Linked DNA regions of Homo sapiens: region 1 is linked to region 2. Evidence: fine-mapped expression QTL. A gene starts in region 2. The other region holds a variant in brackets. All regions are shown on one strand. Distances are between the middles of the regions.

Evidence for each region. PIP is the estimated chance that this variant, and not a neighbour inherited with it, causes the effect.
Region 1: its variant is fine-mapped to the expression of SRGN in whole blood (TOPMed, PIP above 0.99).

The regions. Positions count from the first base shown.
Region 1 is chr10:69,054,247-69,063,783 of GRCh38, forward strand. No RefSeq gene overlaps it. Among named protein-coding and RNA genes, the nearest start is that of SRGN, 29 kb to the right of the region's middle. RefSeq lists a silencer at 616-665 and enhancers at 2,325-2,474, 2,685-2,864, 3,275-3,474, 7,423-7,542. The variant C/T (reference allele first, on the strand shown) is at 5,909.
Region 2 is chr10:69,084,454-69,092,453 of GRCh38, forward strand. SRGN (serglycin) reads left to right here and starts at 3,650. Exons shown (of 3, transcript NM_002727.4): 1 at 3,650-3,783. The coding sequence starts at 3,705. RefSeq lists enhancers at 1,964-2,133, 3,781-4,980 and a silencer at 5,679-5,858.

The sequences.
Region 1 (9,537 bases), 29 kb before region 2:
GTGATCCGACTGGATCCTGCCATGCAGTGCCTGCTTCTTCTTTTTTTTTTTTTTTTGAGATGGAGTCTCACTGTGTCACCCAGGTTGGAGTGCAGTGGCGCAATCTCAGCTCACTGCAACCTCCACCCACCAAGCTCAAGCAATTCTTTTTTTTTTTTTTTTTTTTGAGATGGAGTCTGGCTCCGTTGCCCAGTCTGGAGTGCAGTGGCGCAATCGCGGCTCACTGCAAGCTTCGCCTCCTGGGTTCACATCATTCTCCTGCCTCAGCCTCCTGAGTAGCTGGGACTACAGGTGCCCGCCACCACGCCCGGCTAACTTTTTATACTTTTAGTAGAGATGGGGTTTCACTGTGTTAGTCAGAATGGTCTCGATCTCCTGACTTCATGATTCCCCCGCCTCGGCCTTCCAGAGTGCTGGGATTACAGGCGTGAGCCACCAAGCCCAGCCTCAAGCGATTCTTGTGCTTCAGCTAGCTGGGATTACAGACAAGCACCACCACACCTGGCTACTTTTTGTATTTTTAGTAGAGACAGGGTTTTGCCATGTGAGCCAAGCTGGTCTCGAACTCCTGGCCTCCTGTGATCCACCCACCTCAGCCTCCCGAAGTGCTGGGATTACAGGCATGAGCCACCACGCCTGGCCCAGTGTCTGATTCTTCATTCAGCCCCCACTTGGGTTCCCCTGTGGTTGCAGGCTTGGTTCATCTGCGCATGCTCAGGTTTTGTGACCCGAGGGTCTGAGGCAACTGGGAAACAACTCACATCTTTGTTACATAAAAGCTCATTCTCAGTAAACTATCGCAAGAACAAAAAACCAAACACCGTATATTCTCACTCATAGGTGGGAATTGAACAATGAGATCACATGGACACAGGAAGGGGAATATCACACTCTGGGGACTGTGGTGGGGTGGGGGGAGGGGGGAGGGATAGCATTGGGAGATATACCTAATGCTAGATGACGAGTTAGTGGGTGCAGCGCACCAGCATGGCACATGTATACATATGTAACTAACCTGCACATTGTGCACATGTACCCTAAAACTTAAAGTATAAAAAAAAAAAAAAAAAAAAAAGCTGAACCAGATTGGTCTGATGCAGTTACAGTGGCTCCGCAGAGAGCATTCAAAAGAATTGATGAACTTGAATGGGAATAAATGACACCTTAATTTTCATGAACCTCCAACTGAAATTGAGTGTTTTCTTCCGTTATGAATGTAAATGTCAAACCACAGCAGTGTCAACAGTACCTGTGACTTTGTCACCCTAGAAATCAGATCTTCTCATATCATTTTATGGTTGTTGTGGGTATCTTGAAATATGATTTAAGCTCATCTGCACTTAAAAAGTAAGATGATTATTAGATTCCTCCTAGATTTTGTTATTTAATGCATTAATGAAGATGCACATATATCACCATATCACAAATTTTACAATATTTTTGGCTACTGGCATTCAACATAATTGTTTCAATAGAAATCCTATGTATCTTAGATTTTTTTCTTTTCTTTTTTTTTTGAGACGGAGTCTCGCTCTGTCGCCCAGGCTGGAGTGCAGTGGCATGATTTTGGCTCACTGCAACCTCTGCCTCCTGGGTTCATGCCATTCTCCTGCTTCAGCTTCCCAAGTAGCTGAGACTACAGTTGCCCGCCACCACACCTGGCTAATTTTTTGTATTTTTAGTAGAGATGGGGTTTCACCGTGTTAGCCAGGATGGTCTCAATCTCCTGACCTCGTGATCCACCCACCTCGGCCTCTCAAAGTGCTGGGATTACAGGCGTGAGCCACTGCACCCGGCTATGTTAGATGTATTTTAAGACAGCATTCTGAGAAGGGGGTCTGTAGGCTGGCCAGATGGCCAAAAGGGCCCCTGATCAAAGCAAAGATCTTCGGAAGGTAAAGAACATTCAGAGGAGGCTCCTTGTCCCCAGAGAAGGCAGAGTGGTATGTAGTGGACACAGTAACTCCCTCTCTCTTCCTGTGTGGCCTGCAGGCAAAGGTCACACCGCTCACGGTCAGGGCTGTCTCACTTCCGTTTGGGGTGAGAGCACCCCCTCACTTACTCGTTTCTCATTTTTTGGCAGAAGTGCCCCTTGGCCTCCCATGGCAGCCCTGGGGGAGGGCAATAGGGCTTTTTTCCAGCCTTGTTAACCCAAGGGGGAGGGGGCAACCCAAACAGTGAGGGAATGAGAAGAGCTTGGACTGGAGGAGAGCAGTTGTTCCTTGAGCCTCGACAGGTAGATGCTGACCGCCAGCTCCTTGCTGCCCCTCACAATTCCTTCCTGCCCTGATTGCTAGTGTTCCCGCCAGAGGAGGGACCTGGGAGACCCACTGATGCCTGCTGGCGCTCCTTTAGAGCCCTTCTGCAGCTCGGCAGACGCTTGGCCCCTGTGATCCAAGCCTGCCCCAGGCACAGTCCCCCACCCTCAGGGAGCTCACAGTCTGGCCAGGGGATCTGAGCCAAGAACTCAGAGTAGGAAGAGGTTTGCAGCTGGGGCCTGGTACAGGTGTGTAGAGCAAACCAGAAACAAATGGGTTAACTTCAGATGATGTTTCTACTCTCTCACACCCACCCTGGGTTGTCTGGTGCGTGGCTGAGCTGAGTCTTAAAGGCTAGATAGAGTCTTAGCTGCCCAACTCACAGCAGTACCCTTTGGATCCACCTGCCCCTGTGGGTGGGCACACATGCTGTGTGGGGCGTGCACAACAGTGACCAGTTGGCGAGAGGTGGTGGTGTCACCACAGGGGAACTTGACCTCCTGGCCCAGCAGCCTAAAACAGAGGTTGATTAAAGCAAAAAGAATCATAGTTGTGGATGGCTGGAGACCTGGGTGTCTGAGGAGATGTCTGAGGTGCGAGTGAGAGGTGCCTGAAGTAAACGACAGACCCAGGAAGTGTCTGCCGTGCTGCTCGGAGCCACGGAACAGGGCCCTTAGACTGGATCTTTTTTCCCTTGGAGTCCGGGAACTCTTTCAGCCCTCTGGCGAAAGCTGCAGAACCATCTCCTCAGGAAAATACACATGTATCATCCAAATTCTGTACCCCATTGTAGAGGTTCTCTTCCCCATGTTTGGAGGAGGAAGAGGCAAAGTTAGAGAGGTGGATGAATTTCCCACGATCGACGGCTCGGCAGCAGGGGGGCAGCAGAGCCAGGACCTCAGGTCCCTGGCAGGTTTAGTGTGCCACGCTTTCCCTTCCCCTTATTGTCTCCCTGGAGAGGAGGAAGTGGGCTGGGGCCGGCGGGAGCCCACATGCACTTCCAGTTCCACACCATGCTGGGGGAAACTAACTGGTAGATAAATAAACACGGGACAGCGCAGGTACAAAAGGCGGCAGAGGCCTTGGGTCCACCCCAGTTCTCACCCTCTCCCTGACTTCTTGATTCCAGTGCAAAAGATCAGCAGCTCTTCTCCCTGAGGCCTAACCTGTGACTTCCTCCTCCTGGGGAAGGTAGAAAGACTTGTCTTCTGGCCTGTTCTCTAAGACCTCCCTTTTCAAGCAATGGAAGCATTCAGAACTTTAACAAGAACCAACCACAGTGACCCCACAGTGTCTGTCCTCGCTGAAATCTGAAAGCAAAGTGGTCAGAGTCGTTTGTGCCCAGGCTTCCTGGAAGTGGTGTCTTCTCAGCACGAGTCGAGCAGCCCAGGACAGACTCTTCTCCCTGACTCCTCTTGGCTTTAGAGGAGAGACTGCTGGTGACAAAAGGAACCTACTGGAAATAAGTGGAGGATCACCCACAGTCTCCCAGCTGCCTCCACCTACAGATAAGGAGGAAAGGGTGGGGAATGTGCTTCTAGTGAGCTGAATCCCAGCCTGGACTCAGGGCTGATCCCCATCCCCAAAGGGCTCAGAAGTGATTCAGGCTGCAGGCATCCCAAGTTGAGGTTCAAGAGAGTTATGCCCAGGAGCCCTGGATTTTCTGAGTTGGTATTCATTTCATATATGTGGTTACCCTTTTGTTGTTGGGTCTCGGTTACTGATTTGAAAAAATTTGTCATTATTAAGGGTCTAGGGCACAGTCCTGGGGTGCCTGGTATGGGCAGGAGTTAGTGGTTTCCTTGCGAGTATATGGCTTTGAGAGTTCTGTCCCCAGCCTTCCCTGTTGCGGCTACACTGGTTTCTGTTAATATCACTTCACTGTGGACTTCACTATCATTCTTCTCTGTTTTCTGTTTTCCTTCTTGCCCAACTTTAGCAACCACCAAAGGGATGCCAACTCCTCGTACCTGCCTCCAATTTTTATTTCATGGTCAAATTTTACTAATTTGGAGCAAACACACGGACCAAATAGTGAAGAGTTTGTTCTTTTAAGTTTTCTTAAGTCATTAAGAGATACTCCCCAGCCAGGCATGGTGGCTCATACCTGTAATCCTAACACTTTGGGAGGCTGAGGCAGGAGGATCGCTTGAGCCCAGGAGTTTGAGACCAGCCTGGGCAACATGTCAAAAACCCATCTCTAAAAAAAAAAAAAAGAAATTAGCTGGGTGTGGTGGTGCATACCCGTAGTCTCAGCTATTTGGGAGGCTGAGGTGGGAGGATCACTTGAGTCCTGGGGCTGTGATCATGCCCCTGCACTCCAGCCTGGGGAACAGAATGAGACCCTGTCTCAAAAAAATAAAAAAAAAATAATAAATAAAATAAAGAAACTCCACCTTGGCCGGGCGCACTGGCTCACACCTGTAATCCCAGCACTTTGGGAGGCTGAGGCAGGCGGATCACCTGAGGTCAGGAGTTCAAGACCAGCCTGGCCAACATGGCGAAACGCCATCTCTACTAAAACATACAAAAATTAGCTGGGCACGGTGGTAGAACCTGTAATCCCAGCTACTCAGGAGGCTGAGGCAGGAGAATCACTTGAAGCTGGGAGGCAGAGATTACAGTGAGCTGAGATCGTGCCACTGCACTCCAGCCTGGGTGACAGAGCGAGACATCTCAAAAAAAAAAAAAAAAAAAGCCCCATTTTGATCTTTGCACAATTCATTTGCCCTATCTGAGGAGTATGCTAACTAAAGGTAAATTTCAGCTGCATCCCTGCCAAGAGGAGCAAGAATTTCCTGAGTCTTGGGTTATATCGGGGGACTCCTTTTCCACATAATTCTCCTGGTTTATAAGTGCCTCTGAAATAAAAAATAAAGATGAAGTGGGAGCTGCCACCACCTATTTTCATTTTATTATTACTATTATTATTATTATTATGTTTGAGACAAGGTCTCACTCTGTCACCCATGTTGGAGTACAATGGCATGACCATAGCTCACTGCAGCCTGGAACTCCTAGGCTCAAGTGATCCTCCCACCCTGGCCTTCCAAAGTGTTGGCATTACAGGTGTGAGCCACTGCGCCCAGCCCCATGGCCTCTTTTTTTTTTTTTTTTTATGTGAGACAGAGTCTCTTGTTGCCCAGGCTGAAGTGCAATGGCGCAATCTTGGCTCACTGCAACCTCTGCCTCCTGGTTTCAAGCAATTCTCCCGCCTCAGCCTCCCAAGTAGCTGAGACTACAGGCACCTGTCACTACGCGCGGCTAATTTTTTTGTATTTTAGTAGAGATAGGGTTTCACCATGTTGGTCAAACTGGTCTTGAACTCCTGACCTCAGGTGGTCCGCCCACCTCAGCCTCCCAAAGTGCTGGGATTACAGGCGTGAGCCACCGCGCCCAGTCCCATGGCCTTTTTTTAATACCCAAGAAAGCTCAGGGATAATAACACACCATGCCTCTTGAAATTGCCACAGAAAGAAAATGGAAAGCCACTTTTAAAAATAAAAAGGCTCAGGCCGGGCACGGTGGCTCACGCCTGTAATCCCAGCATTTTGGGAGTCCGAGGCGGGCAGATCACGAGGTCAGGAGATTGAGACCATCTTGGCTAACACGGTGAAACCCCGTCTCTACAAAAAAATACAAAAAATTAG[C/T]CGGGTGTGGTGGCACGCACCTGTAGTCCCAGCTGCTGAGGAGGCTGAGGCAGGAGAATCGCTTGAACCCGAGAGGTGGAGGTTGCAGTTAGCCAAGGTCGCGCCATTGTACTCCACCCTGGGCAACAAAGAGCAAGACTCCATCTCAAAATAAATAAATAAATAAATAAATAAATAAATAAATAAATAATAAAAAGGCTCAAGCCTGTAATTGCAACATTTTGGGAGGCTGAGGTGGGCAAACTGCTTGATCCAGGAGTTCGAGACCAGTCTGGGCAACATTGTGAGACCCTGTCTCTAGAAAAAATTAAATTAAAATATTAGCCAGGTGTATTGCTGGCATGTGTCTGCAGTCCCAGCTTCTTAAGAGGCTGAGGTGGGAGGCTCACTTGAGCTCAGGAGGTCCAGGCTGCAATGAAGTGCGATTGCACCACTGCACTCCAGCCTGGGCAACACAGCAAGATCCTGCCTCAAAAAAAAAAAAGAAAGGAAAATGAAAAAGAAAAGGCTGTGTGGGTTGGCATGCACTTGAAATCCCAGCTAATTGGGAGGATGAGGCAGGAAGACAGTTTGAGCCCAGGAGTAAAACCAGCCTGGGCAACATCATGAGACCCTGTCTCAAATAAAATAAAACAAAATGAAAAAAAAAAAAACAAGACACATTTTAAATCTTCAATAATCTTTAAAAATATGACTTTTAAGATTCTTGGTTAATGCAATAGAAAATTCAGTGATCCCCACCTTTTCTTTCTTTTTTTTTTTTTTTTGAGAATGGGGTCTCACTATATTGCCCAGGCAGGTTTTGAACTCCTGGGCTCAAGCTATCCTCCAGCCCTCTTTTTAATACAAATAAGCAACTCATCCTTAATAATAGTTTGCTTGAAGACAAGGCATCTTTTTTTTTTTTTTTGAGATGGAGTCTTGCTCTGTTGCCCAGGCTGGAGTGCAGTGGCATGATCTCAGCTCACTGCAGCCTCTGCCTCCCAGGTTCAAGCAATTCTTCTACCTCAGCCTCCTTAGTAGCTGGGATTACAGGTGCCCGCCACAACGCCTGGCTAAGTTTTGTATTTTTAATAGAGATGGCGTTTCACCATGTTGACCAGGCTGGTTTCAAACTCCTGACCTCAGGTGATCCGCTCTCCTCAGCCTCCCAAAGTGCTGGGATTACAGGCATGAGCCACTGCGCACAGTCTACAAGGCATCTTTCAAAAGCAAACATGTTATTCCTCACACACCTTCTGAAGATTAAACATGGGATGGACACTACTGATGTGTGGTGGGCTTTGTATGGCTCACTAAGTGGGAGGAATTTTTTTAATATCCTATGTCATAACTCTCAAAGAATGTGTTAAAGCCAACCCAGGAAATTTCTTAGGAACAGAGGTCAACTTGACGGTTGCAGTATTTCTCGGACTTGCGGCTGATGACAAGGCACAGCAGCCTGGGAATTACACAATCTCCGCTCTTACGCATTTCTTAATCATTCACTGGATACAGTTGCATGAATACTTTCTGTTCCTGTTCGAGTTTAGTAAAAATAGCAAAATAGAAGCGTCTATGGGGTTAGGAGAGGAAAAACACTCTAGCAGCAAATTCTGTTCCATTCGACCCAACGTACACGATAGTGATCAGAGGACGTCTCTGGAGAGCGTGTTTTCCTTTTGACCTTGTGTACTTCCTGTACTTCGCTGCCTCTGTGAGCGTGCTGCTCAGGCAGGGCTCTGGGTCCTCAGCAGCACCGAGGCAGCAGAAACACCAGGTATCCGGTGCCCACCACACCAGCAACTTCTGCAGGTCACTGCTGATCCCCACCAGGTCTGACGGGCGGCTGCTCCTCCTGCATTTCACAGATGATTGAAGGAGGCTCCCCAAGGAAGCTGTCCTGGTCAGGTGGTTACAGGTGGCAGAGCAGGTGTGATAGCCCCAGGGCTGTCTGGCTCCAGAGCCTGTCCTTTCTCAACCCTACCACCCTACTTTACGACTTTACCTCCACTTGTTTTTCTTGCCAAAAACTTTTAGCACTACAGGAGAAAGAAGGCCTAGCTTCAGGGCGCTCACAGTCTAGTGAAGGAGAAAAGATGAATATTTAAAAAGCATTTTCTTCTCTGTGCAATGAGGAGCCTGGCACTCTGTGCAATGAGGAGCCTGGCATTCAATTAGAATTAGGGATTCTAACTGAAGCATCAAACCAGATTAGCTCAATGCAGGATGTTGGAACAGAGCACTGTGGGAATTCTGCTTACTGTCAGAGTTTGTATATGGGTAGCCAGGCATGGGGAGGAGGTGGGAAACAGTGAAAGCTGGAGGGACCAGGATTCATACCCCAGAGTGATGGATAAGGTGTAGACAGTATAACAGCAACCTCGATAGCTTGTATTGATTTTGGACTTGCCAAAGCCAGGTTTGAAGTGCTTTCTAGGTTTTGATGCTTTGAATCCACCCTGTAAACCTTAAAGTAGGTACTATTACTCTGTCCATTTCCACGTGAATAGTGGAGACATAGGGAGGTTAGGGAAATTGTCCAGGCCCCCCAGCTAGTAAGTGGCCAGTACTCGAACATAGGCGGGCTGACTCCAAGCCCAAGTTCTTGATCACTGTACAAAGTAGAGGATAAGTTGGCAAATACTCTAATAGATTTTGCCATTATGCTTGTCAAATTTGTAATTATTTGCCTACTGTCTGTTTTCTCCTCTAACCTATGTCTCCAAGAGGGCAGGAACTATGTCTGTCTGGCTCTCAGAGGTAATTTCAGCACCTAGACTAGTGACTGGCACATAGAAGGGTCTCAAAAGTTTCGAAGAATGGATGAAATGCATTGAGGGAAACAGAGGATTCCTTTCCACGAGCAGTCCCCACCCTCTGAGTCCGCCATTCAAGAGCTGACGAATATGAGCAAACTCACTTCTCTCCCTCCCTTGTCATCAGCAAAATGGGGTTGATAACAGAAGTGAAGCTCCAGAAAATGGTCTGGAAGTTCCTAAAAAGTTAAAAAATAGAGTCACCATAGGACTCAGCAATTCCACTCCTGGGTGTTTACCCAGGAGAATTGAGAATACAGTTATGTCCACACAAAAACTTATGCAAGGATGTTCATAGCAGCATTATCCGTGATAGCCAAAAAGTGGAAACAACTCAAATGCCCATCCACAGGTGAGTGCATAAACAAAACCAAGGAGATCCATGCAAGCACATATTTGGTCACAAAAAGAGCGAAGTGCTGAGACATGCAACAATATGAGTAAACCTCAAAAACATTATGCTAAGTAAAGAAGCTGGTCACAAAAGGCCACAAAATGTATGGTTCCATTTACATGAAATGCTCAGAACAGACATGTCCATGGAGGCAAAAAGTAGATTCGTGGTGGACAGGAGCTGGGTGGAGGGAGGAATGGGGAATGAAGAGTATCTTTTTGGAGTGATGAGAATGTTCTGGAATTAGATAGTGATGATGGTTATGAATATACTAAAAACCACTTAGTTGGAGACAGAACTGGGTTCAATCCTGGCTGCCCCCCGGCTTGGTGTATGAGCTGGGGCAAGTTACTCCATTTTGGGATCCTCAGTTTCCTTATCTGTAGGAAGAGACCCTGATCCATTTTGATCCTCATCACCCTATTCACTCCTTCTCC
Region 2 (8,000 bases):
CTTCTAGTTCTAGAAATCAAAAATTCATGCAAGGGCCGTCCTTCAAGCCTCTAGAGACATACAGATTTGGTGCAGTATCTATTTACTGGTTTTTGTTTGTTTGTTTGTTTGTTTTGTTTTTTTGGTGCAGTGCCCAGTTCAGAGTCAAGACCCTCTCAATGAAGAGCCAAGCAAAAGTCCTAGAGGCTGCTGGTGGCGGAATCTTTAACCTGGAGCTTTAGGAAAGAAATAGGCCTTGGAGCTTCCCCTTTGTGCAGTTTCATGGTGCCCTCTGTATCTCTTCTCATAACCTCAATTTATCATTTTTTTTTTCTTTTTTTGAGATGGAGTCTTGCTCTGTCACCCAAGCTGGAGTGCAATGGCATGATCTCTGCTCACTGCAACCTCTGCCTCCCAGGTTCAAGCAATTCTCCTGCCTCAGCCTCCTGAGTAGCTGGTATTAGAGGTGCCCGCCATCATGTCCAGATAATTTTTTTGTATTTTTAGTAGAGACAGGGTTTCACCATGTTATCCAGGCTAGTCTCAAACTCCTGACCTTAGGTGAGTGATCCGCCCACCTTGGCCTCCCAAAGTGCTGGTGTGAGCCACCCTGCCCTGCCGGCGACCCGTCACTTTATTAAACAACAGGAACTGATTTCTGTCATGTTCCAGGTGACTGTTAAGGAATAAGAATACTCATTTTATGGGCAAATAAACTGAATGTGAAGTAAAGTAGGTGCATCTCAGGTTGCCTGGTGAAAGAAGGATTAAGTCTGGTATAGGGTTTGTCTTTTAAAATTGTGGAAAACATGCATATCGTAGATTGACTTTTAGGGAAAGATGTGGGTCCTATTGGGTTAATGGCGGAATCTTTTGGTAAGATCATGCCCAGCCCTGAGGACTGTTGCCAATGCCTCCCTCACCACGTGTGCCATGTGCTCTTGAGGACATCCTGTCATTGGCTTCCCACACCATCATTACATCTGGAACAAAGGACGCATAAAAAGTGAGTGGCCCAGCGTGGCTCAGCTGGTAAGTGAAGGGCATGGGCTTGGACCCAGGACTTCCAGCTGCTGCAGCATGTGTCCTGCTCCCCTACAGCTTGAAGAGGGCTAAATGAGACTGGAGGACTTCTTAGAAAAAGAGACTTGATTATCAGCGTAGTGGGAGAAGAGCAAATGCTTATGAATACTGCACCTGTGCTTTAAAAGTCACCATGAGCTGGGCGTTGTGGCTTACGTCTGTAATCCCAGCACTTTGGGAGGCCGAGACAGGTGGATCACTTGAGGTCAGGAGTTCGAGGGCAGCTTGGCCAACATGACAAAAACCCCATCTGTACTAAAAAAAAGAAAAGAAAAGAAAAGAAAAGAAAGAAAGAAAAAAAATTAGTCAAATGCGTTTGCTTGAACCCAGGAGGTGGAGGTACACCCTGGGCGACAGAGAGAGAGAGGTAAAAAACAACAACAACACCATGACCCAGAGAAAGAAAGAAAAAAAATGAAGTTCCCAAATGGAAAAAGCCCCTAAAATTACCATTTTAAAACACAGCCCTAATCAGCTCTGGGGATTTGCAGGAAACTCATCGAAGCTATTGATAGGAACTATTGTTTTGGTGCCAGGGTTTTCAATTGGGAGTTAGATTTAAAAGGACCAAAGATGACATCTGATATTTCAAACAGAAACCGACATTTCTCAGTGGAAAACTTTCCGGGCCAGTGCATTTTGGGGTTGGTTACTGTGCTTGGAGACGCCCCTGAGTTGGAGGACACACTTCTGGCTGATGTGAGGGGCTTCTGAGGAGGGCCAAAATGTACACTCTTTGTGTTCTTGCACCACGGCTATTAGACTGTGAGACTCTGTCCTTAGCAGGAAATGGTAAAGGAATCAGCAGGAAGCCTAAAACAAGGGAAGGGAAACTCCTCCCTCCTATCAAAGGCCAGGCAAGGGCGAGGATGAGAATGGAAAGTGGGGCACGTGCATTAAGCCGTCTGGGGGAGCGGTAGGGATAGACATGTTGAAATGGAGAGTGGTTGAATCTTGAAAGGAAGTAAGGAAAATGTATATGCCACAAGGGCAAGGATGTATGATAGGCTTGTATTTATTGTATAACTTTATTTTATTTTATTTTATTATTTTTAGTTTTTTGAAATAGAGTCTCTCTCTGTCACCCAGGCTGGAGTGCAATGGCACGATCTTGGCTCACTGCAACCTCTGCCTCCCGGGTTCAAGCGATTCTCCTACCCCAGCCTCCCGAGTAGCTGGGACTACAGGCACTCGCCACCACGCCCGGCTAATTTTTTGTATTTTTAGTGGAGACGGGGTTTCACGGTGTTAGCCAGGATGGTCTCGATCTCCTGACCTTGTGATCCACCCACCTCAGCCTCCCAAAGTGCTGGGATTACAGGTGTGGACCACAGCACCTGGCCTTTATTGTATAACTTTAATATGGAGCCTTAGTCCTCCAGAAATCTGCACCATGCCCAGGGAAAATGCTGTTCCTTTATTTACATGAGGCAGAGGTTTGTGTTGTTTGCTGAGGTCCAGCAGCTCACTGTGAGGACAACCTCTCCCTCGTTCCTGATTTCTGGCTTATTCAAGGCCAGAGGACCCAAAACTCGAGTTGAAAATTTTGACTAGGAGAACAGATAAAAATAGAAATGGAATCCATCTTAAGAAATGCTCAATGTGAAGGAGAGGGGAATGCAAAATAGTTTTTCTGTTTTACCACAGTCTTTGTAACTGAAAATCCTATGTTCTTGAGATAGAGAGAGAGCCAATGATCCAATGCAAGAAACTGAGTTTAAGAAGAAACTGTTTGCTGGGCACGGTGGCTCACGCCTGTAATCCCAGCACTTTGGGAGGCTGAGGCAGGCGGATGGCCTGAGGTTGGGAGTTTGAGGCCAGCCTGGCCAACATGGTGACACGTCGTCTCTACTAAAAATACAAAATTAGTCCAGCGCAGTGGTGTACGCCTGTAATCCCAGCTACTCAGGAGGCTGAGGCAGGAGAATTGCTTGAACCCTGGAGATGGAGGTTGCAGTGAGCTGAGATCGCGCCACTGCTCTCCAGCCTGGGTGACAGAGTGAGACTCCATCTCAAAAAAAAAAAAAAAAAAAAAAAAAAGAAGAAAAAGAAGAAGAAGAAACTGTTCATCTGAAATCCGACAACTCATTCTTGAAGGTTAGAGCTCAGCTTTGAAGTTTCACTTCACGAGCTTGGCTCAGTGAGGTATGTTACTCCCCGGTGAAAAAGAAAATGAAGAGAATGTTTTATGTTGAAAGTGCTTGGTGACGAAAAGGCAGCACCTAGATCCCTTATCTCATAAAAAATGCAGCAGATTCTTAATATTAGCAATCTAGTGTTTAGATTGTTACCTGAAGAAAGGAAAAACAAACTGTCCCAAATGCTGATTCTACTGTTTCGGTGGGAAAAAAAAATGTCTTGCAGGCAAGTGGCAAACAACAAAACTTTTGAAAAAGCAGGCCTGGGGGGAGTCCAGTACAGTTTCATAATGGGTATGAATAGTTATTTTACTGTGTTCCCCCCACCCCCTTTCTTTCTGGGTTTTGATGTGGATGTCTTTCTATTTGTTCAGGAAATTGTGACGTGTGTTCTGGGCAGGGTTTGAGGTTTTGGAACATTTTCTAAAAGGGACAGAGAGCACCCTGCTACATTTCCTAATCAAGAAGTTGGCGTGCAGCTGGGAGAGCTAGACTAAGTTGGTCATGATGCAGAAGCTACTCAAATGCAGTCGGCTTGTCCTGGCTCTTGCCCTCATCCTGGTTCTGGAATCCTCAGTTCAAGGTAAGACTCAGGAGTCTTGTTCCCCAGCCATCTTCTCTGTAAGCCCTGTGGTCCATGCAAGTCATTATATTCATTTTAAGGCATAGAATGTATAATATTGTGAGAAAGGAGGCAAAGAAGAAGGATTTGGGGTCGCTGAACCCTTTAATATGAGTTCTGTTAAGTTTGGTACCAAGAAAAATTAAACTCTGTGGCGTGTGCAGTCTTGTAAACTCTTACAATGATTGAAATGTGCTATTTTGGGATGAAAATGTGAGGTTTATAAATTTTAAAAGCTCAAAAAAGGAATCTAGAAAATGACTCCTGTGCCTGTTGCATGGAGGAGATGGCACCTTTGACTGTTGGGGGGTGTCTGCCTACCCCTAAGTGTCTACATCAGCCCCAAGTTTTAGTGCGCTGTGACGGTGTCATTGTTATTTTAACACTGGGAGACGTTATATTCCAATTGGGGTGAATCTGACTGTGTGTATTTTCTTTTCTTTTTTTTTTTTTTAAAGATAAACTTGGTTCTTACTGAAAACTCAATTATGGTTAGACATAGTTCATGTAAAACCTCTCAGATTTTAAAGAGAAGGCCAAATAATTTGGTATTTGTGCTCTTGCTCAGAGAAGCATCATATTCGGAAATATCTTCCTAGGTTTATCTACCATTTAGTGTTGTTTAGTCAGACTGAAACAACTTAAAACCTGTAATGACTAAGACAATGAAAATGATAGGCTTGTAAGAAAAATACAATTTGTTATTCTTTGGCAAATAAGGAATCATGTCTAAATAAGACGGAGGTCATGGCTTGATAGAGAGATGGCTGAACCTATAGTAGAAAAACACTAGGTTCCGCCAAATGGTAAGGGAAATGTTGAGTCACAATGACACACATGTCCTAGATTTGTTTCGTCAAAGCGACTTTTGGTTGTCATGATCTTACTTCCGGTGGAGATGAAATCTTACAGATGATCGCAGAGACATTCATTTTATGTTGGAAATTTATAAAATCATTTTCTTCTAGTTATGCTAATGCTGAAAAAAGAGCAAGTAATGTTTCTGGAACGTTATTAATTTATGTATTTTTAAAATATAAAACATTGTCAATTGTAGGGAACAGGCTTCACTGGGATCTTTTAGGGAATATCTTCAGCTTGATGAAATAATTCCCGAATAGCCAAGTGGTCTGACAAGATCGAGAGTAATGAGGCCCATACTTTAGTACAGTCTTGAATGGCCAGATGGTGCTGGGCATACCCCAACCAGAGATATGTAAGTCTTTATGTTGTCAAAATTTCCCAGAAACATGAATTTCCCACTAAGATTCATTAAGGAAAACTAGAATGAAAACAAAAACGTTCCTTGTATAATATTCATTAGAAAGAAATGAAGAAGGCCGGGCATGGTGGCTCACGCCTGTAATCCCAGCACTTTGAGAGGCCAAGGTAGGCAGATCATGAGGTCAGGAGTTTGAGACCAGCCTGGCCAACATAGTGAAATCCCGTCTCTACCAAAAATACAAAAAAATTAGCCGGGCATGGTGGCACACACCTGTCATCCCAGCTACTCAGGAGGCTGAGGCAGGAGAATTGCTTGAACCTGGGAGGTGGAGGTTGCAGTGAGCTGAGATTGCACCACTGTACTACAGCCTAGGTGACAGTGCAAGACTCTGTCAGAAAGAAAGAAAGAGAGAGAGAGAGAAAGAAAGGAAAGAAAGAAAGAGAAGGAAAGAAAATAATTCATCATGAAATTGTATAGAATACTAGCATTTATGTCATGACCTCGTAGGTTTAGCTCTTTGTTAGAAAAGGAAACCATAGAAAGAGACAAGGGAGAAACTGACAAACTAGGGTGTTTCCGAAAAAAGGCTCTCAGTATCGGGCTCAAGGGCTTGTGCCCACATCTGAGCATGCAGGGAAATAGATGTCCCCCACTGGCTGCACATGTGAGTGACTGCGGCACAAGGCTGTGATGTGAAGAGTCGTGACACCATTTCCTCACACCTCCACGCAATGCCAGATATGATTCGACAACATTCTTCCTGTCTTATAAAAAGTGTTTATCTAGCCCGTTGGTTTGGCAGATGAAATCAACTAGGCTTTTGGCTTGCTTTTACTGAGCATATTCAAAACCATTTCAGGTCACTATAGTGGTTTGCTCGGGTTGCCATAACAAAGTACCACGGACTGAGTGGCTTAAATAACAGAAATGTATTTCCTCACAGTTCTGGAGATGGGAGTCCAAGATCAAGGTGCTGGCAGGGTCGATCGCATTCTGAGGCCTCTCTCCTTGGCTTATAGATGGCGCCTTCTCCCTTGTCTGCACATGGCCTTTCCTCCATGCATCCGTGTCTTAATACCATCTTCTTAGAGGGTCACCAGGCATTGGATCAGGGCCACCCTAATGGCCTCATCTTAACTACCTATATCTGCAATGACCCTATTTCTGAACAATTTCACATTGTGAGATTCTGTGGGTTAGAACTGGAACATATGAATTTGGTGGTGGTATATTTTTATTATAAGTCAAACCCAAGTAAAGATGTGGGGTAAGATTGTGTTTACCAAGCACAAAGAAATGGAAATTTGGGGATGTGTAACTCTGGAGAGCACAGATGACTAATCTATTTAATGTAGGGCTCCAGGGGATTTGATGAGGCCTGTGAATCTTCCACTTTTATTGCCTCTCTTTTCCAATGACACCCATAAAGAAAAAAAATGGAATATCCATGAACAGGTGCAGCCAAGGAGGCCAGGCCCGCCATGTGTCCACTGTATACTGTCTCCTAGCTCACAGGAATGATACTGATCCACTCCTTGTGCTGCTCTTTGTAAAGTGATTTCACATCCATTCTCTGGTAATCATCATCACATTCCCTGTGATGAGGAATTAGCACCAATTATAGAGGAGAAAACTGGATCTGACATTTCTCATCTCATTTGCTCTATACATTAACCTCTTGCAAAAAATTTGTGAGTCTTGCCCAAGACCCATTACAACTAATTAACGGCTGAACTGGTCGTCTGATTTCAAGGCCAGAATTAACTTTCTACTGCAGCTCATGGATCAGAGGTTTTCTTTATTTAAACAAACAAACAAAAAATCCTTTGACCGTAGCCCTTGCTATAACGTTTCCCACTGAGTTGAGGGAGAAATTGAAAGTAAACTTAGGAGCTTTTTATAGCTTGTCAAACCATGCAAGAGTGGGGGAAGCTTATCCATCTTGTGGAATTGATAGACCAGGAGGAAGTAACTCCGGCTTAGATAATGCTACCATTTTGAATAAATCAAATGGTCTTCTTTTCCCCTTCATGGTAGTTGCTGCTTAAGTTTCTCTAACATGCCTGCAGTAAGTTTCCATTAAGAATAGGAAATTAGGCTCGGTACAGTGGCTCACGTCTGTAGTCTTAGCACTTTGGGAGACCGAGGAGTGTGGATCACTTGAGGTCAGGAGTTCAAGACCAGCCTGGCCAACATGGTGAAACCCCCATCTCTACTAAAAATACAAAAATTAGCCAGGCATAGTGGCATGCACCTGTAATCCCAGCTACTCGAGAGGCTGAGGCAGGAGAATCACTTGAACCAGGGAGATGGAGGTTGCAGTGAGCCAAGATCATGCCACTGCACTCCAGCCTGGGCGATAGACTGAGACTCTGTCTCAAAAAAAAAAAAAAAAAAAAAAAAAAAAAGAAAAAGAAAAGAAAAGAAAAAAAAAAGAAATTAGTATATTGTGATTATGTTGAGGGAAAAGTTAGTACCATAATATAAAAAGGTATGGACTATTGGAGAAAGTTGTTTGCTTTGGTAACATTTACTCATAGAAAGTATTTTGGTAAAGCAGGACTCAGGGTGGTGGGGGAGGTGGGCAGTGAGGGATAGGATTCAAATAAAAACCATTCTTTCCCTTGGAATCCACTACACAATTAACCAACAAATCCCATAAGTGGACCTTTTAGGAAGATAACATTTCTATCCATGAGCATAGCCACTATAATCACAAGACATTTATCTCAAGCAAGATAGAGTCAAGATACTCTCACAACCTCAGGGGCTGGAACTGTAAATTTTCACATCCTGCCAACACCCTTGAATAGCTATGTCAAGAATTTAGTGTCTGTAACTTGTTCTTTATTTTAAAGTACATTTAACATCATCGGCCCCAAATTAGATAGGCTTTTGGAGTGGGATCCCTTCTACTTTTGATTTCTTTATAAAATTTTAAAATAGCTTTGTT